4 linked regions of the Homo sapiens genome follow. The protein of the gene in region 3 purifies or fractionates together with the protein of the main gene of each other region. This does not show direct contact. Each region holds a gene or a part of one and is shown on either strand. Other genes may lie near its edges. The genes, in order: ERC1, FASTKD5, MAPK4 and AHCYL2.

What was found.
Region 1: the proteins of MAPK4 (region 3) and ERC1 purify together in Homo sapiens (affinity purification with mass spectrometry; 2 studies listed by BioGRID and IntAct, with this or other methods). This does not show direct contact.
Region 2: the proteins of MAPK4 (region 3) and FASTKD5 purify together in Homo sapiens (affinity purification with mass spectrometry; 3 studies listed by BioGRID and IntAct, with this or other methods). This does not show direct contact.
Region 4: the proteins of MAPK4 (region 3) and AHCYL2 purify together in Homo sapiens (affinity purification with mass spectrometry; 2 studies listed by BioGRID and IntAct, with this or other methods). This does not show direct contact.

The regions. Positions count from the first base shown.
Region 1 is NC_000012.12:1,077,783-1,085,365, reverse strand, and holds part of ERC1 (ELKS/Rab6-interacting/CAST family member 1), read right to left. Parts: intron 2,203-7,583; coding exon 1,786-2,202; intron 1-1,785. UniProt on the Homo sapiens protein: Regulatory subunit of the IKK complex. Probably recruits IkappaBalpha/NFKBIA to the complex. May be involved in the organization of the cytomatrix at the nerve terminals active zone (CAZ) which regulates neurotransmitter release.
Region 2 is NC_000020.11:3,156,444-3,164,138, reverse strand, and holds the start of FASTKD5 (FAST kinase domain-containing protein 5, mitochondrial), read left to right. Parts: upstream 1-4,273; 5' UTR 4,274-4,373; intron 4,374-7,695. UniProt on the Homo sapiens protein: Plays an important role in the processing of non-canonical mitochondrial mRNA precursors.
Region 3 is NC_000018.10:50,716,815-50,724,397, forward strand, and holds part of MAPK4 (mitogen-activated protein kinase 4), read left to right. Parts: intron 1-5,123; coding exon 5,124-5,285; intron 5,286-5,292; exon of another isoform or gene 5,293-6,125; intron 6,126-6,570; exon of another isoform or gene 6,571-6,606; coding exon of another isoform or gene 6,607-6,706; intron 6,707-7,583. UniProt on the Homo sapiens protein: Atypical MAPK protein. Phosphorylates microtubule-associated protein 2 (MAP2) and MAPKAPK5.
Region 4 is NC_000007.14:129,220,558-129,228,367, reverse strand, and holds the start of AHCYL2 (adenosylhomocysteinase 3), read right to left. Parts: upstream 3,339-7,810; 5' UTR 3,292-3,338; coding exon 2,929-3,291; intron 1-2,928. UniProt on the Homo sapiens protein: May regulate the electrogenic sodium/bicarbonate cotransporter SLC4A4 activity and Mg(2+)-sensitivity. On the contrary of its homolog AHCYL1, does not regulate ITPR1 sensitivity to inositol 1,4,5-trisphosphate.

The sequences.
Region 1 (7,583 bases), on a different chromosome or scaffold from region 3:
AACAACAACAACAATAATAATAATAATGGGCCAGGCATAGGCATATTGCCTGTAATCTCAGCACTTTCAACAACAACAACAATAATAATAATAACGGGCCAGGCATAGGCATATTGCCTGTAATCGCAGCACTTTCAACAACAACAATAATAATAATAATGGGCCAGGCATAGGCATATTGCCTGTAATCTCAGCACTTTCAACAACAACAACAATAATAATAATAATGGGCCAGGCATAGGCATATTGCCTGTAATCTCAGCACTTTCAACAACAACAACAATAATAATAATAATGGGCCAGGCATAGGCATATTGCCTGTAATCTCAGCACTTTCAACAACAACAACAACAATAATAATAATGGGCCAGGCATAGGCATATTGCCTGTAATGTCAGCACTTTCAGAAGCCAAGGAGGGAGGATTGCTTGAGGCCAGGAGTTCAAGACCAGCCTAGGCAACATAGGGAGACTCTGTCTCTACAAAATTTTTTTTTTAATTTAAAAATTAACAATGCATGGTGGCATGCACCTGTAGACCTACCTACTAGGGAGGCTAAGGCAGAAGGCTCACCTAAGCCCAGGATTTCAAGGCTGCAGTGAGCCATGATCATGCCACTGCACTCCAGCCTGAGTGACAGAGTGAGACCCTATCTCTAAAAATAAAAACAATAAAAATTTAAAATAAAAAAAAAATGACTGGAAGCATATACATAAGTTAATAATTACTACTAGGTAACAATACTTTGAGTTATAAGTTTTTGTTAATCTATTTCCCAATTTTACTACAATGGATTTCCAGTGTAATAACATCATGTTTTTAAAAAACAATGATGTTCTACTTCAAAAATAAAAATGCCCTCACTGTTAAAAAAGATTTCAGACTTTTTACAAAAGGAAAAATTATAGAACAACCTACAAATTTAGAAGTATTTTTAAAAATTATTATTTTGCTGCTTTGGGAATACGCCATTTTTTAAACCTCCTTCCTCACATTTTATTTAAAAAGGAATTATTCAGACTCATACTAACACAGATTAGGGATTTATTTTCCCCTGCCCAAAAGTGAAAATTACCTGAAGTCCAACTATATATAGAAAAGTTATTATGGCTATTAATTTTTTAATTCAATATAAGATGGTTTCTTCCTTTACGCCTTCTTAAAATGATACATTATTTAGAAAAGTAAAAAATTATCAGTAGTCACCTAGGTCAGCTAAAAATAAGTAACACTGTGTCTCTACATCACTCTCTCCAGCTATGCCTCCATGGCAGCCAATGATTTTTATCACGTATCTTTTACAGCAAGGCAACAGTTTCCATGGAAACCACAGGGCAAATATCCATTATTGCTGCCAAGGACTTTTATAAGCACACATAAGCTGAGATAACCGCTTACTCTCTTTTACTAATATTTTTAAATTAAGCAATGGTTAGCTATTCTGATTCTGGTTTTGTTGTGTTTGTTGTCTCTATGAACAGATCTAGAGATGAGTGAAAAATCAAGGAATTTTTTACCCCTTTAGCAACAAATGAACTCTCAAAATCAGGGGAGCAGGAGAGAAAAGACCCAGAAAGTCACTGAGCCAGCATACATACCAGACAATGTCATCCCATACAACAGGGCAAATCAGAACAGAAATCAGTGACGCACTTAAATACAAAGGATGAAATTCTCTTCCACCAGCACGGCAGAGCACGTAGATTCACTGGGGCCAAGATGCTGATTAATCAGTGAAAAAAAAGATAACCAACAAATCATAAAACTAAAAAAGTAGTCACATACCTCTCTCAACATACTGTTCTCTTTTTCCTTCTGCTCCAAAAGGCTTTCTAGGTGATGAACGTGCATCTCTGCCTCTGCCAGTCGTCTTGTTCTCTCATGGTCTTCCTCGGTAGCCTTGGCAGAAAGTCCTTTGCTCTGCAACATTTCCAGAAGCTTCTTAATGGATTCATCCCGAGCATTTAGGGTCTGCTTTTGAGTCTCAATACGCAGCTCCATTTCCTCCAATGTCTTTCGAAGAAGAAACAGCTCTTTGGCCTGCCGCTCATGCTCAGCATGAAGCCTCTGAAAGTTCTCCTCTGTCAGCTCTGCTACACAAGGTTCGCCAGTCCTGCTGCTACTATCCTGCTGAAACAGCTGATTCAGGTCCCTCTGGATCCGCAATTCATCCTGGAGAGCCTGGATTGTCATCTGCATGTGCTAGAACCAAGACAAAAAGAAAACCCCCAAATCAGCTTTCCTCCTCAAGTAGCAAATCAGAGCAGCCTGCAGGAATCAAAAATAGCTACAAGAAATCTGCATCTAGCAAATTAGGATTCACCTTATTCTGTTTTACAGGTCCTTAAAAAATGATTGAGATAATATGCAAAATGTCAGTAATTTAACTTCAGTTTATTCTCAACAGGAAGCAAAATAAGTATGGCACTCACTCCTCACTTTGCATAAACTACAATAAAGACACTGTTCAAAATTAATAGAAGATATTAACACGGAAACTAAATTTGAGGGAATGTGGGAAATGGGAAATCTACAGGAATATGAATACATTCTTTCAAAAAATTTCATCAAAACAGCCGGGCGTGGTGGCTCACACCTGTGTAATTCCAGCACTTTGGGAGGCCAAGGTGGGCAAATCAGCTGAGGTCAGGAGTTCAAGACCAGTCTGACCAATATGATGAAACCCTGTCTCTACTAAAATACAAAAGTTAGCCGGGCGTGGTGGCGTGTGCCTGTAATCTGAGCTACTCGGGAGGCTGAGACAGGAGAATCGCTTGAACTTGAGAGGTGGGAATTGCAGTGAGCCAAGACTGCACTCATTGCACTCCAGCCTGGGCAACAAGAGTGAAACTCTGTCTTAAAAAAAAAAAAAAAAAAAAAATTTTTTTTTTTCATCAAAAAATACAAAGGATGGCCAGGCGCGGGGGCTCACACCTATAATCCCAGCACTTTGGGAGGCCGAGGCAGGCGGATCACCAGGAGTTCAAGACCAGCCTGGCCAACATGATAAAACCCCATCTCTACTAAAAATACAAAAATTGGCCAGGCACGGTGGTTCACGCCTGTAATCCTAGCACTTTGGGAGGCCGAGTCGGGCACATCACGAGGTCAGGAGTTCAAGACCAGCCTGGCCAACGTGGTAAAACCCCGTCTCCACTAAAAATAGAAAAATTAGCCAGGCATGGTGGCACGAACCTGTAATCCCAGCTACTCAGGAGGCTGAGGCAGAAGAATTGCTTGAACTGGGAGGTGGAGTTTGCAGTAAGCCAAGATCACACCACTGCACTCCAGCCTGGGTGACAGAGCAAGGCTCCGTGTCAAAACAAACAAACAAACAAGCAAAACCGAAGGACAGCGAAATACAAAATGACTTTTAAGTATTATAAACATTAAATAATAAATATTAACATTTAACAAGTAGTTTGTATATGCCAGATTGTACCACACATTTTTTATGTTATTTAATCTTCATTATGACACATGGACTCTTTTTTTATTTTACTGTAGTAAAAACCCTTAACATGACATCTACTTTCCTAACAACTTTTAAGTGTACAATGCATTACTGCTGACTACAGGTACAATGTTATACATCAAATCTGTAGAGTTTATTCATCTCAACCAAAAGTTTATATTCCTGTTGATTAGTAACTCTCCATTTCCCCCTACCCCCGGCAACTACCATTACACACTTTGATTCTGTGAATTTGACTATTTTAGATACCCAACACATGTACTATTATTTAATTTTATAAATGAGGGCACGAGGCTTAGAGAGGTTTAAGCACTTGTCCAAGATCACAGAGTAAGTGATAGAGCTGGCATTCAAAGCAATCCTTGCAGCCCACTAAAACTAGAACCAAGAAAAAAAGAAAACTCCAAATCAGCTTTCCTCCTCTAGTAGCAAAAACAGAGCAGATTGCAGAAATCAAAACTGGTAATACCCAAAGATAATAATATAGCAAAGTTTTTTTAAGTTAGAATATGCAAAGCTTTTTATACAGGGGACGGTAACAACATGGGTGGCTAATTAAATAAAGGTGTTAATGCAGATGAACTACTAAAATGTTTGAGAGGGTAGATCTTTAGCTTCTATCCCTAAAGAAGGTACACGAACCTTTAATCTGAATGGTTATGTAAATTCCAGCACATTATACAATGAATTCCAAAAGGCTGTGACATCAAAAATCTTATTTTTAGGAATGAAGAAGCAACAATAAAAGATCATTCCTTGTATTCAAGGCCTAAGCAGTGTACCATACTGGGAAGAACACGAAACTGTGATGAGAAAACATGAGTTTCAGTTCTGACTCTCACGCTGACTAGTTATGACATTTAGACATGTCACCATCTTTCTGGGTTTCAGATCCCTCATACTTTAAATAAGGGTATAAATACCTGCATTATCCATTGAAAAAATCTTTTTTTTTTTTTGGAAATAAGGTGGCTGCTCTATTAGTTCGTTTTCACGCTGCTGATAAAGACATACCCAAAACTGGAAACAAAAAGAGGTTTAATTGGACTTACAGATCCACGTGGCTAAGGAAGCCTCAGAATCACGGTATGAGGCAAAAGGCACTTGTTTAATTGGACTTACAGTTCCACATGGCTGAGGAAGCCTCAGAATCACGGTATGAGGCAAAAGGCACTTCTTACATGGCGGCAGCAAGAGAAAATCAGGAAGAAGCAAAAGCGGAACCCCCTGATAAACCCATCAGATCTCGTGAGACTTACTCACTATCACGAGAATAGCATGGGAAAGACTGGCCCCCATGATTCAATTACCTCCTCCTATGGCCCTCCCACAACATGTGGGAATTCTGAGAGATACAATTCCAGTTGAGATTTGAATGGAGACACAGCCAAACCATATCACCTGCTAATGATTTTCAGCCTTAAAAAGGAAAGAAATTCTTACACATGCTACAACACAGATGAACCTTCAAGACGTTGTGCTAAGTGAAATAAGCCAATCACAAAAAGACAAACACTATATGTATCCATTGACATGAGGTATCTAGAGCAGTCGAATTGATAAAGAAGGAACTAGAACAGTGGTTGCCAGGACATAGGAGTGGGACAGAACGAGGAGTTATTGTTTAATGGGTATACAGTTTCAGTCTGTCAAGATGAAAAGAGTTCTGGAGATAGATGGGATATACTGAATGCCACTAAACTGTACACTTCGAAATGGTTAAGATGGTAAATTTTATGTTATATATATTTTACCATAATAAAAAAATTGGTTGGAGAGAAGATGTTGGTCATAAAATTCCACTTACGGATATTTTAGGTTAGTTCTCATTTTTCACTATTGTAAGATGCACCTTCACATATGTATCTTTACACATGAATCCACATTTTTCTTGGGAACTCTCAAAGATGGAATTGCTGGATCACAAAGTATGTACAATTGTAATTCTGATACATATTACAAATCATTTCTATATGTATCTTTGTATATCAACTTTTGTCATATTACAAATCATTTCTATCTGTATCTCTGTATATCGACTTTTGTCATATTACAAATCATTTCTATCTGTATCTCTGTATATCGACTTTTGTCATATTACAAATCATTTCTATCTGTATCTCTGTATATCGACTTTTGTCATATTACAAATCATTTCTGTCTATATCTCTGTATATCGACTTTTGTCATATTACAAATCATTTCTATCTGTATCTCTGTATATCGACTTTTGTCATATTACAAATCATTTCTATCTGTATCTCTGTATATCGACTTTTGTCATATTACAAATCATTTCTATCTGTATCTCTGTATATCGACTTTTGTCATATTACAAATCATTTCTATCTGTATCTCTGTATATCGACTTTTGTCATATTACAAATCATTTCTATCTGTATCTCTGTATATCGACTTTTGTCATATTACAAATCATTTCTATCTGTATCTCTGTATATCGACTTTTGTCATATTACAAATCATTTCTATCTGTATCTCTGTATATCGACTTTTGTCATATTACAAATCATTTCTATCTGTATCTCTGTATATCGACTTTTGTCATATTACAAATCATTTCTATCTGTATCTCTGTATATCGACTTGTCGTATTACAAATCATTTCTATCTGTATCTCTGTATATCGACTTTTGTCTTATTACAAATCATTTCTATCTGTATCTCTGTATATCGACTTTTGTCATATTACAAATCATTTCTATCTGTATCTCTGTATATCGACTTGTCATATTACAAATCATTTCTATATGTATCTCTGTATATCGACTTTTGTCATATTACAAATCATTTCTATATGTATCTCTGTATATCGACTTTTGTCATATTACAAATCATTTCTATCTGTATCTCTGTATATCGACTTGTCATATTACAAATCATTTCTATCTGTATCTTTGTATATTGACTTTTGTCATATTACAAATCATTTCTATCTGTATCTTTGTATATCGACTTTTATCATATTACAAATCATTTCTATCTGTATCTTTGTATATCGACTTTTGTCATATTACAAATCATTTCTATATGTATCTTTGTATATCGACTTTTGTCATATTACAAATCATTTCTATCTGTGTCTTTGTATATCAACTTTTGTGACTCCTCTCTCCTTGTTCTTTGCCCATTTTGTTATTGAACATTTTTTCTTAATCCATTTTAAGAGCTCTTCATATTAGGAAAATAACCTTTCACCTGCTGTGTATGTTACAAATATTTTTCCAAGTCTGCCATTTTTCTTTTAACATTGTTTATGATGACTTTTAATAGATATTTTCTTTTTTAATACAAAGACAATGACATTTTCCTTTATCATTTCCGGTTTGGGTATTATGCTTTTAGCAAGCAGTGAGCTTTCAATTCTGGTAGTCTTCAAACACTTGAAAAGCACTGCTATTTCTTTCGAAGAATAAACTCACCAAAAAAAAAAAAATCAGGAATTTAAATTCATGAATATAAATTTTAAAATGCATTTCACTACCAGCATCATCTTTTAAAGATTAACAGTTGCTGGAGTTCAAAAGACCTTCAATAAAAAGATGTATCAAAATGCTAATTCTCTGAAGCCTAGTTTCTTTCCCTTGGAAGTCAAAAAAAATCCTGACACTCCTGAGTGAATATATCCCAAAGGGAAATACCAGAAGTGAAATTCAACAGGGAAGCTGATTTCTAGGTATGACTGTTCCTCCTTTTCTGACCATTCGTCATCAATTCATTCAAGTCAGGAGAAATATATGTTGGCTACAGTTAACAGTTTCACATACGCTTTGGCACATATGGCTAAATGTAGCATGGCAATTACTATTTTGGTAAAGAAAGAAAACATTAACTACTAGTGTGTCTGGTTCTTCAGCTCCGCCTGCACCCATTTTACTATAGTATAAAAATAAAACAATGCTCTGACTTGGTAGCCTAGAAGTCTATACAGCAGTTTTCTCCACTAAAATATAAACCAACATTTCCTCTTTTGGCTACAATCAGGCTAGCTTTATTTTATAAAAATTCCTGCCAACTCCTTTAGAAGAAGGAAAAAAGCAGACTACAAGCAAGGCTACTCTTTCTCCAGCATATTCATACAGAAGATAAA
Region 2 (7,695 bases), on a different chromosome or scaffold from region 3:
CAGTGCCATAAGGTGCCCCAGTCCTTCTGGAGGCCTGGGCTGCTACTGTTGGCCACCCTGTGTCTAGTGATGCTCTCTGTGCTCACCTCCTAGGCCATGGAGCCTGAGGGGGCCTGCACCAGGTTTGCTGAAACTGACAGAGCCTGGGCTCCAGACCTCTCTCCCTCCTACAGTGCTCTCCCTCCCTGGGCAGATTGGCAGGACAAGTGGGAGCAGATGGCCTGCCTTTGGCTGAGAGGGCTACCTGCCCAGCCCCTCCCCCAACAAGATCTCTTGGACTCAGGCCTCAGAGCCTGGCCTGGTTGTGAGTGTGTGTCCCTGTGTGTGTGTTGCGGGAGGGGAGGACTGGGGCTGGAAGTCCAGCACCCAGGGAAGATCTGTCCTCCTGTTCTTGGGAAGCGTTGCCTGACGGCTTCTCGGCTCTACCCTCACCCTTCTGGCCAGGATCCCGCAGGGCAACAGCCCCATCTGCTTGGCTGACCCCACACCCAGGACCACTGTCCGGCTCTAACACAGCTATTAAGTGCTACCTGCCTCTCAGGCACTCTCCTCGCCCAGTTTCTGAGGTCAGACGAGTGTCTGCGATGTCTTCCCGCACTCTATTCCCCCAGCCTCTTTCTGCTTTCATGCTCAGCACATCATCTTCCTAGGCAGTCTCTTCCCCAAAGTCTCACCTTTTCTTCCAATAGAAAATTCCGCTTGACCTTTGGTGCACTGCCCACTTCCCAGCTCCACTGGCCCAAGTCTGAGCCGGAGGCCCTTGTTTTGGGGGCGGGGGGAGAGTTGGATGTGATTGCCCTTGAAGAACAAGGCTGACCTGAGAGGTTCCTGGCGCCCTGAGGTGGCTCAGCACCTGCCCAGGGTAGGCCTGGCATGAGGGGTTAGGTCAGCCAATGTCAGCTGCTTCTCTTGGGGCCCTCTCAGAGTCTATCTCCCCAAGACAGGAAGGGAAAAGCAAATTTCTAATTCACCAGCAATAAAAATTGGAGGAGGCTTGGCCCTCAGCCCTTATATCTCTCTCTTTTTCACTCTCTTCCTCCCACCCCCAAGACTGAGTTTTGGGGGGCAAGGTGGAGAGAGCTGGCAACTACTGTGAGCAAGTCCCCTAGCCCCTGACCAGCCTCCTCCCATGACTGGTGACTGTTTAATGAGCTGTGCATCCCCCACAAAAACATGAGTGCCCCTCTGTGTGGCCTCTAACCCTCTGCACAGCCCTTCTGGGTGGTCCTCACCAGGTCTCTGAGCTGGGTGGGAGGCCATCCTGGCGACCACTGCCCATTCCATTCACCCCTCACTGTACCTGCCCTAGAACCTGGGCCTAGGCCACAGGGGCAGGGAGAAGAGAAGGCATTAGTAAGAAAAAAATAGAAAAAAATATGAACAGACTCAGCTTTGGGACGTCCAACCACAAAAGAAATTATATATAAATATATATAAATATATATCTCTACCATATGTGATGGAAAGACTTTTTGTTTTCCTTTCCCAAAGAAATAAAACGGAAAAAGCCTCTTGAGTGGTATTCTTTGGCCTGCTTGTGTCTTTGCAGGTGCGGGAGGTGAGGCCCGGGTGGGGGATGGGGGCAAAGCTGGAGTAAACAGATTTCCCAGAGGAGGCATGAGACTGGAGGTGCTCACTGGGCCGTGCTAGGAGGTTGGCCCAAAGCCCAAGTTCTGCCACGTTGCCCGGGAAGAGTCGTGGTGCCATGTATATGCCCAGTGGGGCTTTCTCTTCAGCTCAGACTGTTGCCAAAGGGGTTAAAAGCTGGCTCCAGCTCAGAATCTGGACACTAAGCTGCTAGCCAGAAAACAGGTGACGCAGGACAGCTAGATGCAGCCTGCAGTCGCCTAAGCCACCTTACAGCAACTGGTAGATGTTTGCGGGCTGAATGGATAGAAGTGAAGACTGGGAACAGGTTTGCAATTAATGGCGAAGCCCCAAAGGCAAAAGGGACCCAAGCGTGCTGCACAGCAGAGAGCTTCCCTTTACAACAGTTCCTCTGTCATCCTCTCAAAGCACACAATCAAGAATGCACTCTGCTGTAAGTAATCAAAGGACCTCAAAGAGTGGTTTATTTTTCCCCAACCTGACAAGAAATCCGGAGGTGGTGTCATGGTTGTTGGATCCTCGGGGACCTAGATTTTCATCCTCCCACTGTTCCATCCTTGGCATGTTGTTCCCTCCTTACCACAAAGTGGCTGCCACAGCTCCATGAAGACATTGAGGCGGCCCTACTTTATCATGAAAAGTAAAAGCTTTCCCAGAGCCCTCCCAGGACCCTTCCCTTTAAGTCCTGTTGGCCAGAACTGAGCCACATGCTCCTCCCACTTCAAGGGAGAATGGGAATTTGAGTATTACAAAGAGAAACAGGATTGTCATGGCTGCCTAGGAACAAACATGGTTCATTCCTTGGGGGCAGGCTCTCTGCTTTCTCTGGGTTCTACTGGCAAGGACAGAGTCATAACAATGAATAGTGTTTGCCCTGGTCTGGCCTGAGGGAGAGAACCCTCCCTAAGCAGTGGTGTCTGTGGTCTGGGGCTCCAGATATTCAAACAGCGCTGTCTCCAGAGCTCAGGAGTTGGGATGTCAGGCTTGCCCCTCCTGGCAGGGACGTGTTCTTCCTACATTGATTTTGTCTTCCCTACAAGATAGGCCCTGGAGGGAGCATGATTTCTCAGCTCTCCTTCACACCCCTTAGAGCCAAGGCATTGACAAGATATGAAGACCCTGATCAGCAGATCTCAAGTGCCCTCAGGAATGGCAGCCTGGGGCCAGGACTTTCTGATAGGTAGAGGTTTAGTAGAGTCTCTTTCTTGTCTAGGTACCTATACTGACAGCTGTGTCAATATATGTACCCAGTAGGACCCAGCCCTCCTTCTTAGGGTGGTGGAGAATCACCCTGGCTCATGCTCCATAGCTCTGGCCTCGCTAAGCCCCAGCTCCACATCCATTTCTCTCAGCAGGCTCATCTATCCATCATGTCACTAGCTCTTTTCCTGAGAGCACTTTACAGATACATCTCTATTATAAATGCATTAAAAAAAAAAAAAGATGGAGTCTCACTGTTGCCCCGGCTGGAGTGCAGTGGTGCAATCTCGGCTCACTGCAACCTCTACCTCCTGCGTTCAAGTGATTCTCCTGCCTTAGCCTCCCAAGTAGCTGGGGTTACAGGTGCACGCCACCATGCCCCGCTAATTTTTTTTTGTATTTTTAGTAGAGACGAGGTTTCACCATGTTGGCCAGGCCGGTCTCCAACACCGGGGATTACAGGTGTGAGCCACCACACCCGACCAATGCATTGTTAAAATTAGACAGGTGTGGTGGTGCATGCCTGTGGTCTTAGCTACTCAGGAGGCTGAGGCAGGAGGATCACTTGAACCCAGGAGGTTGAGGCTGCAGTGAGCCATGATTGCACCATTGCACCCCAGCCTGGGCAATGGGGCAAGACTTTGTCTCAAAAAAAAAAAAAATGTATTGTTTTTCTCACTGTACAGGCTTAGAGAATTTATGTGGGCCGGGTGCGATGGCTCATACCTGTAATCCCAGTACTTTCGGAGGCTGAGGCGGCAGTATTGCATGAGCCCAGGAGTTCGAGACTAGCCTGGGCAACATAGGAAGACACTGCCATCCCCGTCTCTATGAAAATAATAATAATAATATAACAAGAATGAATTTATGTGACTTCTCCAAGGCCATAAAACCCTGAGTGGTGGTCCTCAGATTTGAACATGTGTCTAAGCTACTTACTTTTTTTTTTTTTTTTTTTTTTTTAGATGGAGTCTCGCTCTGTGTCCCAGAGCTGGAGTACAGGGGTGCCCAGACTGGAGTACAGTGGCGAGATATCGGCTCACTGCAACCTCCGCCTCCCGGGTTCAAGCGACTCTCCTGCTTCCGCTTCCTGAATAGCTGGATTATAGGCGTGCGCCACCACGCCCGGCTAATTTTTGTATTTTTAGTAGAGACGGGGGTTTCACCACGTTAGCCAGGCTGGTCTCGAACTCCTGAACTCAGGTGATCCGCCCGCCTTGGCCTCCCAAAGTACTGGGATTACAGGCGTGAGCCACCGCGCCGGGACTAAGCTGCTTAATGACTTCCAGAGCGATCCATCCAGGAAGGTGTTTTCCCTCTGCAGGTCCTAGACTCCCCCTGCCTCCTCAACAACGTCCTCCAGTGGAAAATGTCCTTGGGAAACGCTGACAGAGTCTTTTGAGCCTCGGCCGCATCCGTCACTCGCGCAGCAGGCGGAAGTAGCGGGCAGTTGGCCGGAAGTGGGGCTGTGAGGCTCGGAGTCGCCGGAGGAGCCAGTATCTGTGTCGCCGCCGCCCGCGGCGTCCCCGGTTTGGTGTTGCGGCGCCCACCTTCGGGAGGATCAGGTGAGTGGCGGCGGCCGGGGAGGAGGTCGCGGCGGCCTCTTTCCGCGTTCACGACCGTCCTGGGCCTTGGCCTGTGCCTCCTGTCCTCCCGGCCGGCCCAGAGCTGGAGCGCATCGAGGCCTTGTTCAGCTCTTGGCCTGGGTTGCCAGTGCCTCTCGCAGGCCTGGCTGTGGTGAGAACTTCAGTGACTCTCGCCGCTCCTGAGTTTGTGATCTTTGGCAGGGGGCTTATCTGACCCTTGATTTTTTTTCCTCTGTGAAATGGAGATCGTAACAGTACTTGTCTCACGGTGCTGTTAAGAGAATGTAGTCAGATATTCTGCCGCGCCTCTCATCACACTTTGATGTGCCTGCGAATCGCTTAGAGATTCTGATTCTGTAGGACTGGGGTGGGTTCTGAGATAACTGTGTTCCTAACTAGATTCCAGACGAGGCTGAAGCCTCTGGCACGCAGACCACACACTGAGTAGCAAGGCCCTACAGTATGTTGCTTAGCATTTGGGATGCGGAGTCTTCGGTAAACATCAGTATGATAGGATATATACCTTCCCCCCATTTTTAGCAGTTTCTCGTTGCACAAGCCTAAGGGTAGTATTGATGGCCTTCTCCCTTTTTCTTTCCGTGGGTAAGAATAGTTGCTCTTTCTCTTTCTGTGCAAACCGTGACACAGCTCTTCTGTCTTGACTCAGGGAACTTTGGGTCCCCTCATATCAGCTGTGTTCATCAGTCTTGGGTGATGCTTCACTGATCAGACCCTTGGACAGTGCTTCATCCTGTGGAGCTGATAGCCAGCTGCGTTAGCACCAACTGTGGCTGGCGTTTTGTGCTCCAGTCATTTGTTGCTGCTGGAATCTGAATTCACGTTTTCTACACTTTGTGAATAGTAAGAATGGCTGCCTTTCCAGAACTAGATTCTGTAGCTCACTGACCTGAATGGTCCTGGGCAAGTCCTTGGATAGTTTGCTACTACCTGGTAGACTAAAATAAAATCTGGGCCGGACACAGTGGCTCACGCCTGTAATCCCAGCACTTTGGGAGGTCAAGGCGGGCGGATCACGAGGTCAGGAGATCGAGACCATCTTGGCTAATATGGTGAAACCCCGTCTCTACTAAAAATACAAAAAAATAGCTGGGCGTGGTGGCGGGCGCCTGTAGTCCCAGCTACTCTGGAGGCTGAGGCAGGAGCGTGGCGTGAACCCCGGGAGGCGGAGTGTGCAGTGAGCCGAGATCGCGCCACTGCACTCCAGCCTGGGCGAGAGAGCGAGAGTCCGTCTCAAATAAATGAATAAATAAATAAATAAATAAGTAAATAAAATCTGAAGACTCTGTGCTGCATAACATAACTTAAAAAGTGAGGCCTTTGGCAGTTATGCAGGTCTAATGTTTATTAGTCAGTATGATTTTCTTCCCCATCCATTGGTTTATTTTTTTAGTCCCTAATAAGGCCTTGCCATTCATCATGTGAATAAGTCAACTTTGATATAAAATAATTCTAAGGTCAGGTGCGGTGGCTCATGCCTGTAATCCCAGCACTTTGGGAGGCCGAAGTGGAAGGATTACTTGAGCCCAGGAGTTCGAGACCAACCTGGGGGCAACATAGGGAAACTCTGTCTCTACGAAAAAAACAAAAAACAAAAAAAACACACAAAAAAACAAAATGTAGCCAGGCGTGGTGGTGGGCTTGTAGTCCAAGCTACTTAGGAGGCTGAGGTGGGAGGATCGTTTGAGATCCTTGAGCGATCCTCGCCCGGGAGGTTGCCGGGGTGAGAGGTGGGGGGCAGTGGTCGAGGATGCAGTGAGCGGAGATTGCACCACTGCCCTCCAGACTGAACAACAGAGCGAGACCCTGTCTGAAAAAAAAAACAAAAGAATTCTGAAACTCCTTCTTTATTTGTCTGAAGTATGTACTATACAGCCTCTATACAGCCTTGCAAATTGTAAAAGCAGATAAAACCAAGTGTTTATTGAGCTAACAGTTATAGGTACTTGGACCATTTATTTGGGAATTTTCTCTTATGACGACTGTGTGCATGCAGCTACTTCTCTTTACCTGCCTGGATTTTGTAATTCCTCTAGAAGCCCCATTTAGATGGGCTGAGAGGACATGAGTGCCTACTGCCTGTTGTTATATGGAGAGGTTTTCTAAAGACAGGGTTTTATGAAACCCTTTAAAAGCAGTAGCTCTAACAGAATCATCTACAGGGCTTAGTCATACTATATCTACCCACATCCTTCTTGCCATTCTGATAGAGGAATAGCAGAGTCTTAAAAGAGAAGCGGAAGGGCTGTGTAGCTGAAAAAGTTTCACAAATGTTTGTGATGTGCTGTTTTTCTCCTATCAGCATGGAGTCTAGAACAAAAAGGAAGGGATGGATTGCTAGACTGAATAATTTTAGTTTGGCTTAGACCTGCGAGTGACACTGAACTTGACCTAAACACCTTTGCACTAGTGCTTCACCTTCGCAGTACTGGTAGACTCCTCTCTGAGGCCCTGCTCCCGTGTGGAAACAGAAACACAGAAGAGTCTAGCCCAGTTAACATCCACATTAACAGCTAAGGTCCTTACTGCCAGTCTCTAAGCCCTCACTAGGGGCTTTGAAGTTTTGTAGATTCTCAGCAGAATACCTCAGCACCTAGAGAAAGTTCGGTTTTTTTGCCCTTTTTTTTTGGTAGAGACAGGGTCTCGCCATGTAGCCCAGACTGGTCTTGAACTCCTGGCCTCACGTGATCTGCCTGCTCGGCCTTCCAAAGTGCTGGGATTATGGTCATGAGCCACCTGTCTAGCCAGTTTTTTTGCCTTTTTAATTCTTAAGGTTGCTCAACAAATTATTTGCTGAGACAAGAATAGGGTTGGAGTGTTCATTTATTTGTGGCAATTTTATTGGGACATAGAAAGGAAAAGTGTTAGAATTGAGGGATCAGATCTGGTAAGTGGTAAATTGTATGTGTTTAAGGTGTCTTATACTCAGTCTACAGTTAGCATCGCTCCTTCCTCTGCCTGGCCCCCCTCCTCTAACTTCTAGACTCTAGTTTAAAATGAAGCTATTCGGCTCTGCTCAGACCGGTATGTGGAAGGGAGAAAGGTAAGATTCTTCAGTCCTGTGAAATCACATCATTCAGGGAGGTTTGGGCATTGCCTTTTGGAACTGACAGGGTCCAGGAGTGTCTGAGGCTCTACTCTGTTTCGTTAGGACCCCTAAAGGGGAGAAAGGTATACTTGGGGCACTTAAACTAGGAAAGGAGTTTTGTGAAATCATATCAGGTATCTTTGACCTTTATTGAAAGAGTCAGGCCGGGCGTGGTGGCTCCTGCCTGTACTCAGT
Region 3 (7,583 bases):
TCTCCCCTCAGCTCTGTTGAGTTGAGGCCATCCTTTCTCCCATGCCCTGTACACAGAGCGGGATAGAGCCTCTGCATCCTCCTTGCTCACCATTGCTTGCCTGCTATTAACAAAGCAGCCCTCCTCTGTGGCCTACCAGATGGCCCCTCTTCTTCTCTATCTTGTCCTCCCGTGCCAGCACCTCATCTCATCTCCCATCATCCCCCACACTGAGGCTGTTGGCACCTACGTCATGGCCTCCCTCTCCACAATTGGTCCCACATCATTCTGGCTGTGAGGCTGATGTGACTCACTTATCTACTATCCTGACACAGAGCCCCACATCCTCAGTTCCTGGGACACTCACTGCCCTTGTTGTCAGCCTGTCCTCCCCACATCCACCCTGGACTTTGTGTCATCACCCAGAACTGCTCAGGGGAGGAGAGATCTGAAGCGAGTATCAGAGTGGCAGACGCTGGGGAGCTGAGTGTCCAGGGAATGGAAAAGGGCACGAAAGCTGGAAGGCCTGAGAAGTACCCACCCACCTCCTTGCTTGATCATGACTGCAGTGTGGCCCAGGGGGAGCGTGTTTTCTCTTGGCAATCAGCTTACAGGAGGCATGGCCAGCACTCATGGCCTGCATTGGTAGGCCTAGGCTCCTGGGGCTACCCCACACTTCCATGTTGGGAAGGGAGGGGGAGAGTGAGGGAGTAGGATAGCCTTACCCCAGCCCCCTTTCAGAACCCCAAGACCTAGTAAGATTCCCCCCACTAAAGCCCCTGAATCCCACAAAATATAAGACAGCAGTGGCCCTTCTAGTATCCCCTAAGAGCAAAGGTGTGTCCTTAGCATCCATGTGGGCTCCCTCCACCCTGAAATCTCTGTCTACAAACCTGAGCCTGCAAGTGGCAGGGCTAATCAAGATTCCCTGTGGCCCCACGGGGAGCCGACAATCTCAGTTGCTGGCCTGTTGTTCTTGTTCACTGTAGAGTGACCACATATGGGCAGCTGGTGTAATAATTAGCTCATGGGCACTGCAGACCACCTAAGCCCACAGGTGAAAAGGAGCTGCCCACTCACCTGTCAAAGCCCCTGGCTCTCACAGCTGCTCATCTGCTGTGTGCACAGAACATAGTGCTAAGGATGGGGAGAGGGATTGCTGTGGGACAAAGGGACAGTGAGGAGGCAGGGGGAGAAAGTCAGACAAGGGCCTCTCCAGGGAACTTATGGTCTTGAGACAGAATTTTAGATGCCAGCCCTAGAAGGGGCCCAGGACAGCCCACCTCTTTTTTAACAGGTGATTTGGTTTCAAATAATGCAGGGTGGGAAAATGAGCCCAGAGAAGAAGAAATGGCTAACAGTGGCCTTTCTGAGGGAACACCAGCAGGACATTAAGAGAAAGCCATGTCTGAATAGCTAAGAAAGTCTTTATTGTGTTTTGTTTTTGAGACAGTCTCGTGCTGTCCCCCAGGCTGGAGTGCAACGGCATGATCTTGGCTCACTGCAACCTCCACCCCCCATTTCAAGCGATTCTCATGTCTCAGCCTCCCGAGTAGCTGGGATTACAGGCATGTGCCACCACACCCAGCTAATTTTGTATTTATAGTAGAGACGGAGTTTTGCCATGTTGGCCAGGCTGGTCTCAAACTCCTGACCTCAAATGATCCACCTGCCTCAGCCTCCCAAAGTGCTGGGATTACAGGCATGAGCCACTGCACCCAGCCTGCCAAGAAAATATTTATATTGGGCACAGTTAAATCTTAGGCACCATAGGAGCAGATTTATCTAATAAGGAGTAATGAGAGACCCAGAAAATGTAATCTCTCAATCACAGCAATGAGGGAATTATTCAGTGCTATGCTGGGCTAGTCACTCTTTCATTCATGATGCTAACTTCTTCCAGTAAGTATTTAAAATACATGCTATATATAAAACATATATTAATATGATATGTTAATATTAATTATATGTTAATGTAACATTAAGTAACAAGAAAAGGTAAAATAGGTTGGGCATGGTGGTTCATGTCTGTAATCCCAGCACTTTGGGAGGCCGAGGTGGGCGGATTGCCTGAGGTCAGGAGCTCCAGACCAGTCTGGCCAACATGGTGGAACCCCGTCTCTACTAAAAATACAAAAAAATTAGCTGGGCGTGGTGGCATGCACCTGTAATCCCAGCTACTTGGGAGGCTAAGACAGGGGAATTGCTTGAACCAGGACGGTGGAGGTTCCAGTGAGCCGAGATCGTGCCACTGCACTCCAGCCTGGGCGACAGAGCAAGACTCCACCTCAAAAAAAAAAAAAAAAAGGTAAAATAAAAACAATGGCAGGAAAGTCAGATGAAGCTGAAGTCAGGGCTTATGTCCAAACATTTAGGCCCTGAGTACAAACGTCTTCATTTGCCCCCTGGACTCTCAGGAGCCCCTACAGTTTTCCCTCTGGTGGATTTTGTGCTTTGGGTGGATCCTTGACCACGTGCTGGGGATACAAGTCTGAGTAAGACATAGTCTCTGTCCTCAAAGGTCTGATGGTCCAGCAGGGGACACAAAAGGGTTAAAAACAAAACAAAAAAAAATACACAGTGAACCTATCTGTGCCCAGGGTGAGCCATCCTGCTATCTTATTTTTCCAACTGAAATTGCACAGACCTCCCAGTTCCGTATTTTCCAGCCAATTCAAGGCAGGGGAGAAAGGAGGAACAGGTGGGAGGGAGGTCTCGCCCTGGACTCTGACTCAAAGACTCTTCCCACCCTAGCCATAGCCACTAAACCCTGGATGGCTCAACATCTCTGGCCCTGCCCCCACGATCTGGGTCATAGGTGCCTGGCTGCCTCCATTCTCCCAGCCTTGAACCCTCAGCTCACAGGGCTGTGCTCCAGCTGCCCTTCCAACAGGCTGACAACCTTCAGGCCAGACGGAGAAGAGCTGGGCTTCTCCATACCACAGCAGGCAGGTGACTCACTGAGAGCCCAGACGAGACTGTATAATCCACAGTCTATTGGCCTCTCATCTTCAGGCTCACTGTCTGTGGTCACGAGATGGTCGCAATCGCTTTCAGGTTCTCATGCAGAAGTGTCCAACGAAGAAAGGTAGGGAGGGGTCAGCCAGGGCAGCCAAACAGCTCTCCTCACATTTCTCTCTTACCAGGGAGGAACACCTTCCCCGGAAGTCCTTCCAGGAGATTCCTGTCCCTGTTTGATTGAATCACATGGCCTCCCCTTATTGCAAGAGAGGCAGGGAAGGCAACAGCTGGTGTGACATGGAAAGGACCTTCTTTCAGTAGGAAAGGGACATTGACCATAGTATCCTCCATGCTTCACACCTTCTCCCATTTTCAGTGGTGGCTTAGTAGACTCAGTGTTAAGATGCCTCCCCCAAGTGACGTCTGTCACAAAGAATCACTCACGGATGATTAGGACATAAATCCCCAAGGTGGAATTATTCCATCAGCTTCTCTCAAAGCCACTCTTCCCCACTCCTAGAAGCAAAGGAAGTCAAGAGTTATTAAACATCTGCTACAAGCAAGGTATTTCTCCCGGAGCCTTCATCTGCCAACACACTTGACTCCTTATAATACTCATTCCAAGTATAAATAATCATCCTCATTCCACAAGGGGTGGGGGAGCTAGGTCTGCCTCCAGGGCTGTCTGCCACCAAAGCTCTTGCTTTCCGCCCCAGGCCATGGATTCCCAGGGAGGCCCCACTGGCTGCCTCCCATATGACACCATTGATCTCGGGCAGGAGCAGACAAGTGAAAGAGGCTCATTCTCTGCCCCCACCCCCGCTGTGGTTGAAGAAGCTACTCCAAGCAGAAGGTTGTGTATTACTAGTTTGTGTGTCACACAGGAGAGGGGTCAGGGGCTTGGGAGCAAGGTCCCACCATCTCTGTCTGCAGCTTGATCACCCATTGACCTCATGGTCCCCTGGTGGGTGGTGTGGAGTACACATTTGGAGAGAGGACCCCACAGGGGGCTTCCAGAGCCCTGAACTGACCCAATGAGTCCACTGCAGGGAGAGGCCAAAAGGACCTCTTCAGGAGAGAGCCTGAGGCTGCAGGCACTTCTTCGGTCAGTATTCACATGTGCTTAGGGCCACACAGGGAACTGTGGGGGCACCTGGGAGAGCCCTCATCCTAGGCTGGATGACTGGAAGACTGGAATCCCATGGGAATTCATGGCAAGGGGAGGGCCCTCTGTGCAGCTGGATGGGCAGGGAAGACTTCTTGAGGAAGGAGAGGTATGGCTGAAGTTTTAACCTAGTACAGCTAAGTGGAAAGGCAACTCAATCAAAAAAGAGAAAATGGAAGTACAGAAGAACAGCCTGGAGGTCAGAGAAGGACAGCAAGGAGACCCATCTGTCCAGAGCCAGAAATGCCATACGGTGGCCAGTGGTTGTCTGGGTGTGGGAGGTGAGTTGAGTTTCTGAGACAAAGACTGAAGCTTCTTATGAATGAAAACTATGCCTCACCGATTCCCAGCAGTCAGCGTGATGCCTGGCATGGAGAAGGTGCTCGATAAATAACTATTTATGGAATGAGGGAATAAATGAATGTTTGAGTCCATCCTGTCCCACCAAAGTGCCCCTGCAAACCTGGCATAGCCTGGCCTGCCTTCCTTCTCCCAAGGATCACAGAGGCCATGTGCTCAAGATACATCCCAAACCCAATTTGTTATTCCTGATTTGTTTTTCTCTTGAAAGTTTCCTAGATGGAACCCTCTTAATTAGAAACCAAAAGGTATGGCTCATTCCCAGCCTTAAAACTGTTTCCTTCCCCATCCTAGTAAAGATTGTGCAGAGAGGTCTATGGGAAGTTGCACTTGGAAGGCCTTGAGCCAGGCTGTTCCCATTCTTTAGTGCTGACTTATATCCAGCTGGTCTGAGACACAGAATGCTAGGGGAATAGATGGGGCCTTGCAGACTACCAGATTCAACTCCCTTTTTCTACTTTTGACAAAGCCAAGCCCCAGAGATGTCAGCCACCTGCCCACAGTTGAGCAGCAAATGAAGACCAGAACCCCGGTCCCAGCCCAGTGCTGCCCCACTGCCCTGTGTTGTCCCTCCCAGAACACCTGGCACTGCTTTTGGGCTACTGCACACCACAGCCCCTTGGACAGCACACTTAACCATCTGGCATTGCCTCCCCAGGGGCCCATGAGCTGGAGCAGATGCAACTCATCCTGGAGACCATCCCTGTAATCCGGGAGGAAGACAAGGACGAGCTGCTCAGGGTGATGCCTTCCTTTGTCAGCAGCACCTGGGAGGTGAAGAGGCCTCTGCGCAAGCTGCTCCCTGAAGTGAACAGTGAAGGTACCTGAGCCTGGCAGCCAGGCCAAGTGTCCTGGGAGGATGAGCTAGGCTCCACCTTGCGGGGTAGGGGGCAGGCAGGTCTCCTTCCAAAAGGGCAAAGCATGGTCCTTGGATATAAAAGTCAAGGCTCCCCTGCCAGTGGGCCTTTGCCCTAACTACTTCCAAGCTGTGGATGCTGGGCCTCAGGAGTCCATTAGGGGCAGTCATTAGTGTTCTACCCTTGTTTCTGCTGCCTTTTGCTTCTCATCTTCCTTGCTCACCTTCCTCCCTCTCTTTCCTTCATCCTCCCTCACATTTTTGTCCTGGAAGGCTTGGTGTGCTGCAAAGAACAGGAGCTTCCTCAGCCTGAGGGCAAGACCCAGGTCCCATTCCACCAGTGATGAGCTGTGTGGCCTCAGGCAAGGACCGCCCTTCACTCCTCAGGCTTACTCCCTCTACTGTATATTCAAGGCTCAGCAGGCCTGGGAAGAGGCCAAAGGCTCTAGCTGCCTCTAGCTCTCAGAGGCTCAGGAGACCCAGTCTCGGTGACAGCATCCCTCAGCAGCCGAAACGTCCATCTTGTGACAGGTGCAGAACAAGGGAGGCAGGCCCCAAGACCACACTGGGGGCATTAATTCTGAGCTCCATTTATTACAGGACAGAAATAGACCAAAGGTGATGAATCTGATGACAAAAACTCAGGTGCGGCACAGGTGAAAGGCGGGCTCTGGATGAAGCAGGGTTGAGGGGCTCAGTGTCCTGCCCACCTGCCTCTCAATCTCCAGACATGCTCCTGAGAACCCTTCCAGAACCCCTGGGGCTCTGAGCAGCTCAGTTTGGAATCCACTGGGCCAGAGGAAGGTGACAAGATTGTACAGAAGCTTCATTATCTAAGAAATGACTTAAAAACATCCGGGGAGGGTGAGCCTAGGGAGGAGGAGTTTCTGAGGGGCGGTGGCTTAGGAGTTAAGGTGAAGCTTGTACAGTAGCAGATAACCCTGAAATCTCCGTGGCTTAACCCACTTACAGTTTATTCATTGTTTACTTCACTTCCAGGCAGAGTTGGGAGCATGGATGGGCAGGGGAGGATGAGTGGCTGTGCCCGGGACCCAGGCCATCAGGTCTGCCATCTTCAGCAGGTGGCTTTCAAGGTCACCTTGGGCATTCCCTTCCAGCCAAAGCCAGGGGAAGAGAGAGCAGAGACTCTTGCAGGAGGTTTTTCTGGGTCAGGCCTGGAAGTGGGGTACACACAGCACTTCCACCCCCATTCCATCAGCCCCAGGCACACAGCCATTTCTCACTGCAGGAGGGGCTTGGAAAGGCAGGTCAGAAGGGTGCCAGGATGGATGTCACATGGGACATGACTGCTGCCTTGAAACAGAAGAGGGGAAATCGTGGGACAGAGAGGACATGCTGCTTTGGGGAAACCACTGAAGGCAGAGGTAGGCCCTAGGGTAGAAGTTAAAGGGGGATTTAAGTTTGATAAAAGGAAGTATTTTCTGGGGCAGGTGTGGTGGCTCAAGCCTGTAATCCCAGCACTTTGGGAGGCCGAGGCGGGCAGACCTCTTGAGCCCAGGAGTTTCAGGCCAGCCTGGGCAACATAGGGAGACCCCATCTCCACTAAAAATATAACAAATTAGCTGGGCATGGTGGCGCACACCTATGGTCTCAGCTACTTGGGAGTCTGAGGCAGGAGGATCACCTGAACCTGGAAAGTTGAGGCTGCAGTGAGCCGTATTCCCATCACTGTACTCCAACCTGGATGGCAGGAGTGAGACCCTGTCTCAAAAAAAAAAAAAAAAGAAATGAAGAATTTCCTAGTGTTTGGGCTTCCCAGAAGTATCTGGGGACCTGCAGGAGGATCAGCTGTCAGGGAGAGGGAAGAGCAGATTTTCATCCGTGATGGAGTCTGTGGAGCAGCTTTGGGGTTGGTACTCGACTTTTTTTCTTTTGCGACAGGGTCTCACTTGTCACCCAGGCTGGAGTGCAGTGGTATAATCATGGCTCACTATAACCTCAGCCTCGAGGGCTCAAGTGATCCTCCCACCTCAGCCTCCCGAGTAGCTGGCACCACAAGCATGCGCCACCTTGGCTGGCTAATTTTAAAATTTTTTTTGTAGAGACAACCCACTACTGGCCCACCTGGCCAACTACTACTCGTCTTGCTAGAAACAAGCCCAGGGTGATCTCAAACTCCCAGGTTCAAGCAATCCTCCTGCCTTGGCCTCCCAAAGTCCTGGGATTACAGATATGAGCCACTGCCCCAGTGGTGGTACTCATCTTTTTTAAAGATGATACTGCCTGCCTCAATCTTTACAG
Region 4 (7,810 bases), on a different chromosome or scaffold from region 3:
CTTATTAACTACTGCACTTGGGAATTCTGGCTCTTGTAAAAAGTTTATTCCCCTTGTGTGGCTGAGCAGAGTAACAAAACTAAGAAAACTGATGATATGTGAATGAAGTAAGGAAAACCATCTATGGAAATGTGACTTAAAATAAATGTTTATACATGAAAGTTAAAAAACAAATGCAACAGTCACCAGTTCCACAGCCAAAGGCAGCTATTTCAATACTAGTATTCTCAGTTCCTTCATATGCTATAAGAAAAACAGTAAGGAGTCAAGGTCAAAGTGGTTATTTACATAGACAATCTAAGAATCAACAAAGGCTCAACAAATCAAAATGTCACACTGCAGTTCCTTGGTGAGATGACTTTCAACTTAGGGAAAGGGCAGTCTTGGGCACTTATTTTGATTTAGCCAATTCAATATCAAGAAGGTTAAAGATTGGGCACCTGAAAAGCAGCTCAGCAATGCCCTGAATTTCGTCATCCAGCTGTATCCTTGCCCAGAGCTTCACCTGCTTAACTTTCAGCAGAGAAGTTGTTTTTTTGGTGCAATTAACATTGTAAGGCAAGCTCAGCCCTGCTTTACAATAGCCTTGAGGCTGCTGAGTATATCTACAATCATGGAACATACATTTGGTGCTGAAAAAACAGGAAGATGGTTCAACGACAAGGAAAGTGGTCAAGAAGCACATCTAGAATTAAGAAAAACAGACTCCAGTATGCTGGTCTTTGATTTTTTAACTTTTTTTTTTTTTTTTTTTTTTTTGAGACAAGGTCTCACTCCAGCACCCAGGCTAGAGTGCTCATTGCAGCCTCAACTTCCTGGGCTCAGGTGATCCTCCCACCCCGGCCTCCTGAGTAGCTGGGACTATAGGCACACACCACCATGCCCGGCTCTTTTTTTTTTTTTTTTTTTTGGAGAGAGAGGTTTTCACCATGTTGCCCGGACTGTTCTCAAACTCCTGGACTCGAGCAATCCACCAGCCGTGGTTTCCCAAAGTGCTGGGATTACAGACGTGAGCCATGATTTTTTAATTTCTTTATATAGAATATATTGAACTGTGTGTAACTTTCAGAGGTGGTCATGGGGGCTTGCACTTAAGCCATGATGGGAGGAATAAAATAAAATCAATTATTCATAATAATAAAAGCATTAGTAAGAATATCATTTAAGACTTTATGTGCCAAGCTCAATGCTAAACCTTTTACAAATATTTCTAATCCTCAATCATAATTAGTACTTTCATTTTATAGAAGAGGAAACTGATTTGTGTAATTTGGAAATTACCCAAAAGGTAGTAATGGGGGTACTAGGCTTCAAATCCAGGTCTGCCTGACTGTAAACTTCATGCTCTAAAAGCAATTTGTTAAACACTTTTAGCCTAAAGAAATCTAACCAAATTACAAAGTTTAGACAAAAACAGTCTTTATCACAAGAAAATGACTTAACGATACAAAGTATCTCAACAAGTCAGAAGTATGCTTTGGATTTCCAGACTCAGATCTAGGTACTCCCAGCACTGGTGCTGCTGCTGCCTCTCTTTTTTACTTTACTTTTTTTCTTTAAACCCATTTCTGCAGGATGCTGCCTCTTTCTACTCTAATTCTTCCCAGAGGAGTTTCATACTACAAACGACAAAGACATTGTCTAAAGCATTACAGAAATTCCTTCAGTCTTGCCTCTGACTTATCACCTAAATTTGTATCGTTAGGATGAAAGGATTATCCGCTATACCTTAATCATGACGCTATGACAACAAAAAGTTATGGTGGATCCAAGGTTCCAATTCAGCTGGTCCCACACAGTAAAACCAATGCACACTTCCCGTCTCTTTGTTGCTGTTCTGATAAAGCAATTAAAAACCATTCACAACAATTTAAAAAAAACATTAATCCCTGTGCCCATACTGTGTCTACGAAATTGAAGCTGTAAGCCCTTTTTATATGATCCACACTTCTGTCTTTTCCAATACTTGCCCTGTTTTTCTGTGCTGATTCAGCTTTAAGAGAGAAAGAAAGACAAGCTTTGAGAGAGACAGACAACTATGGATAGACAATGTACGGGTAATACAGGGCTATCATCCACCTAGGCAGTTACTTCTTGGTATTCTGAGACCTCCTCAAAACTGTCTGAAAGAAGCTGACGCCTAAGACCGAAAACCCCACAAAGATCGTCTTTCCCAAAAGTAGCAGCATTTCTTCCTATCACTTTCAGATTATAATAAAGCAATCAATAAGACATTCATTCTCTTCATACACAGCCTAATAATCCTGGTGACCAACTATACCCAGCAGGGAGGACAAAGCTCTTAACACGAAAGAGTGAGGAGAATCTCTCCATTACCCTTTTACATATTCAGGGAAGAGAGAATATCGCAGTCGCTGGAAATGAAGGGCACAGCATCGTGTTGCTGTATGGCCACGGTTGGCCACAGAAAGGCAGAAAGTCATCAACTGTATGGAAACCAGACAACTCTGACGATTTCTATGCAAGGTGACTACACCTTACTCGTTCTCCAAGTATTAAAGATCTTTTCATCCTTATTGCTGTGTGAACTCCCGTGAGCGGTAAGGTTTTTCTATACTATCGAGGTCTCTTCCCCGATAGGCTGGAAAATCACACCCGGGAGCGTGTTGGGGCCGCGGGACGTACTATTAGGTGTCTCTCCTCCCGCTGCCTATTCCAAGTAGTAGGGGAGAGCGCTACCTCCATGTTATTCAGAGCGAAGTACGGCCGTGCCTCCTGGAGTCTCCGCTCCCAGCACGAGGGGCCGGCTGGGGGGCATCTCTGAGAGAGTGGGTTTAAGGGGACAAGGGGTATCTCCGGTCCTGCGATCAGAAAGGAGGGCGTGGAGGGTGGTGCCGCCGTGCCGAGAGGATCTGCAGTTCCCCTCCCCTCCCTTCCTCTCCTAGAGAGGCAGCCCGGCCCCAGTACCTTCTTGACTGTGCGCGGCGCCTCGGTGACGGTGCCGTCGGGGCTGACCAGGGCCTCGCCGCCGTCGCGGTGCCGCTGGTGCTGGTGATGTGGGTCGCTCCGCTTCATGGCCGACGCCTGAGGCACCTTCCCGGCGGCGGGGCTGAGAGCGGCGGCGGGCCCCGAGCCCGGGCCGGGGACCGGGGGCCGCTCCGCGGCGGGAGCTGGAGCCTCAGGGTCTCCACCGCCCGCCGGGGGGGCCATGGCGCCCACGGCGGCCGTGCTCAGTCCTAGTTGCGACTCCGCCTCGGAGGGGCTCAGGTCCTTCAGCTCCACCTCAGGCACCTTGGCGGCAGCCGCGGCTGACACAACCTGCACCGACATCACCGCCTCCGCTGCAACCACCGGCTCAGACTCCAGCTCCTGCTCTTGGTCGGCCCCGCCTCCCACCTCCCTTCCTCTTCCCTCCCCCATGTCCCCACTCCTCCCCTCCATCGCCTCCTCTCCCACCCCCTTTCTCCGCCCGCCAGTCCCGGCCCCTCCAGCCCCGCCCCGCCCCGTCCCGGTCTGGCCTCGCGCGAGGCGCCACGGAACCTGTAGTGCGTTTGCTCCCGGCCGCACGCGGCGAGAAGACCGTGGGACCTCAGGCCCCGACCTACACTGCGCGCCCCATGGGCGGGGCCCGCAGCGTCCCCTGGGAGTTGTAGTCCTTTCAGCCTTTCCTCCACTAAGTGAGATTCAGCCGAGGAGAGGGAGCGCTAGGGCCGGCAGCTAACAGAAAGGAGTGAGGATAGGTGACTCGACGGAGGGGATGAGGAAGAGAAAGTCTCCAGAGGAGTTGTGACTTCCGGGGAGGGAACGCCAAGAAGCCTTAGGGGAGGGGAAGTGGTAGAGGAATGGCTCGTTGTCCTGACAGCGTGAAGTTCCTCCGCGCGTGCCCGTCTGCGATCACGTGAGCGAGTATTTAAAGGAGAAGCGGCGGCTCCAGGCTGGAAGTGGCTTTATTTTTCTTTGTGATATTGAGAACTCAACACCCTTCCAAACTTCAGTGGCTTTGTTTTTAGAAGGGATAAAGTAGGACCTTGCTTGCTGTGGCGCTTTCTGTCACATTCTGGGTTTGGAAGCTAAGATCATTCCTCAAAGAAGTTAGGTATCACTAGATCAAAATTCAAGGCTGAGGAATTACACGTTGCCTTAAACGAGGCCAAATCTTTTCACCTATAATTCTAATAGGGCAATCATCTGAAATTCAGATACATATATCAGCATAGAGGGATATGAATAGTGAATATGAGTAGTTAATTTCCTAAGTGATGGGATTTAAGGTGATTTTTACTTTGTACTTTTCTGTATTATTTTTAAATTTTACATTTAGAGGATGTAAGCAAAAAGACATGCACCGCAGCGTCCTTTTTAATAACAAAAAACTGTCTAAAACTAATGTCCAACAAATAGAGCAATTGTTACAGCCTTTGAAAATCGTTTGCCAGCTGGGCATAGTGGTTGACGTCTGTAATCCCAGCACTTTGGGAGGCCAAGGCCGGCAGATCACTTGAGATCAGGACTTCAAGACCAGCCTGGCCAACATGGTGAAACCCCATCTCTACTAAAAATACAAAAATTAGCCAGGCGTGGTGGCGGGCACCTGAAATCCCAGCTACTTGGGAGGCTGAGGCAGGAGGATCGCTTGAACCTGGGAGGCAGAGGCTGCAGTGAGCCAAGATCATGCCACGGCACTCCAGCCTGGACAACGGAGTGAGATGCCGTCCCAGAAAAAAAGGAAGAAAGAAAGAAAATTGTTTGCCAATACTTTTTAACAACAAGGTTTTCCCTTTTTCATTCTTTACTCTGAAAGCCAAAATGTGAAGAGGAAGCTAAGAAACTCTTGTGTCTGGTACACTTGTGAGCTCTGTGGAAATGGCAGTGCTCAGACGCCTTCCGATACATAGTGTGAGGCACAAATTTGGCGATCAGGAAATGAGAGACTCCAAGGCAGGACAACTTCACGAAGTGAAGATTTCCAAAATCGTAATAGCACAGGAAAGAAGATCAAGGCATTCTGGCTTTCAGAATAAATGCTTATGATAAAAACATTAAGCTAAGAAGCAAGAGACAAAATTGCACATGCCATAAGATTTTATGTAAAGAATACTTTAAAAAGCCTGTAATCCCAGCACTTTGGGAGGCCGAGGCAGGCAGATCACGAGGTGAGGAGATCGAGACCATCCTGACTAACACGGTGAAACCCCGTCTCTACTAAAAATACAAAAATAAGCCGGGCGTGGTGGCGGGCGCCTGTAGTCCCAGCTACTCGGGAGGCTGAGGCAGGAGAATGGCGTGAACCCAGGAGGCAGAGCTTGCAGTGAGCAGAGATCGCCCCACTGCACTCCAGCCTGGGCGACGGAGCAAGACTCCGTCTCGTAAAAAAAAAAAAAAAAAAAAGAATACTTTAAAAAAACAAAATGCAGTTGACTCGCGACAGATTATGGGGGGGGTTCCTCTCTATGCTCAGAGAAACAGGAGCAAAGGGGTTCATACAGTTTACAGCTGTTTCAGAGACTTACAGCCCTAACAACCCAGGCAGCCACTGGACAGCTACTCTTTAGACATCTAGTCTTTGGTGTCACTGTGTTTTGCCTGGCAAGGAGAAGGAAGGAGGCCAGGCATGGTGGCTCACACCTGTAATCCCAACACTTTGGGAGGCCGAGGCGGGTGGATCACTTGAGGTCAGCAGTTCGAGACCAGCCTGGCCAACGTGGTGAAACCCCATCTCTAATAAAAATACAAAAATTAGCCAGGCGTGGTGGCTTCTGCCTGTAGTTCCAGCTACTCAGGAGGCTGAGGCAGGAGAATCCTTTGAACGCAGGAGGTGGAGGTTGCAGTGAGCCGAGATTGCACCACTACACTCCAGCCTGGGCAACAGAGCAAGACTCTGTCTCAAAAAAAAAGAAGGAGAAGGGAGAGAAATCACCTGCCTCGATCTTCTTTCCTGTCCTACTATTTTGGAAATCTGTTCACTCTGTGTGGTTGTCCTGCCTTGAATGGAGGCTCTCATTTCCTGATCTCCAAATTTGTGCCTCACAGTACATGTCGGAAGGCATCTGAGCACTGCCATTTCCACAGAGCTCACAAGACACAAGAGATTCTTAAGTTTTTTCTTCACATTCCGGCTTTCAGAATTTCCTTCCTGTTAAAAAGAAACCAGCCCAGAGCTTCATCCTCCAGCTGTCGGAGCAGAGATTAGCAGCTCTGTAACTGATTTCATTCTTCCCCCTAATGCTCAAGGGAGCTACGGTACAGCCACCTGGCATGTGTTGGAGCTCATAGGCAGCAGCTGCCTACCTGCCACTAGAATTGATTACTGAGAGGATGAATTAATTCTTCAGTGTGATGTGGTTATAAAATATAAGGAGTTAGAGCACTGGAATGAAACTGATACCCTGTTTTATTCCAGTCACCACCACTGATTGGGGCCAACCATCAGGACACATTCTTCAACCTGTTGTCAACTCCATCCCTACATACCTGCTGCTTCTGCCATCCTTGTAGCTGAGGGACACCAGGTACAGTTGAAGATCAAATTACATACTAGAAACAGGGTAATTAAGCACCAGTTTATGAACTATTTAATGAAATATTTGGACTACAGGTCTTCTTCCTTCACCCGGCTCATTCAGCTTCCAGAACGCTGGCAAGCAGGAATGTAACGTCCATGCAGGACATTGGTATAAAAAAGAATTTCTTTTTTTCTTTTTCTTTTTTTTTTTTTGAGATGGAGTCTCGTGCCATCGCCCAGACTAGAGTGCAGTGGCATGATCTCGGCTCACTGCAACCTCTGCCTCCTGGGTTCAAGCAATTCTCCTGCCTCAGCCTCCCGAGTAGCTGGGACTACAGGCACGTGTCACCACACCCGGATAATTTTTTGTATTTTTAGTAGAGACGGGGTTTCACCATGTTAGCCAGGATGGTCTCAATCTCCTGACCTCGTGATCTGCCCGCCTTGGCCTCCCAAACTGCTGGGATTACAAGCCTGAGCCACCGCGCCCGGCCAATAAAGAAGAATTTCTTGGCCAGGCACGGTGGCTCACACCTGAAATCCCAGCACTTGGGAGGCCAAGGCGGGCAAATCACGAGGTCAGGAGTTTGAGACCAGCCTGACTAACATGGTGAAATCCCGTCTCTACTAAAATACACAAATTAGCTGGGTGTGGTGGCACACGCCTGTAGTCCCAGCAACTCGGGAGGCTGAGGCAGGAGAATTGCTTGAACTTGGGAGGCAGAGACTGCAGTGAGCTGAGATTGCGCCACGGCACTCCAGCCTGGGCAACAGAGCAAGACTGTGTCTCAAAAAAAAAAAAAAAAAAAAAGAAGAATTTCTCTGAGGTATCTGACCAATCCAAGAGAGAAAACAAAGATACTAACATTGAGAGTTTCCAAAGGAAATAAGCCAGCCAGATCACCCGCCCTGAAGACCATACTCATGTTCACAGAGCTTCCGTGAACAATTTAGTGTCACATTCTTAAGTATGAACAGACAACCAAAGTCACCAGACATATGAAGAAAACTTTGGTTTTTTGTTTCGAGACAGAGTCTCACTCTTGCTGCCCAGGCCAGAGTGCAGTGGCATAATCATAGCTAACTGCAACCTCTGCCTCCTGGGCTCAAGCAATCCTCCCACCTCAGCCTCCCAAGTAACTGGAACTACAGGTTTGCACCACTACACCTGGCTAATTAAAAAAAAATGTTTTTGGTAGAGTAGGGCTCTTGCTATGTTGCCCAGGCTGGTCTCGAACTTCTAGTTGTTTTTTTTTTTTTGGAGACGGAGTCTCGCTCTTGTTGCCTAGGCTGGCGTGCAGTGGCGCAATCTCGGCTCACTGCAACCTCCGCCTCCCAGGTTCAAGC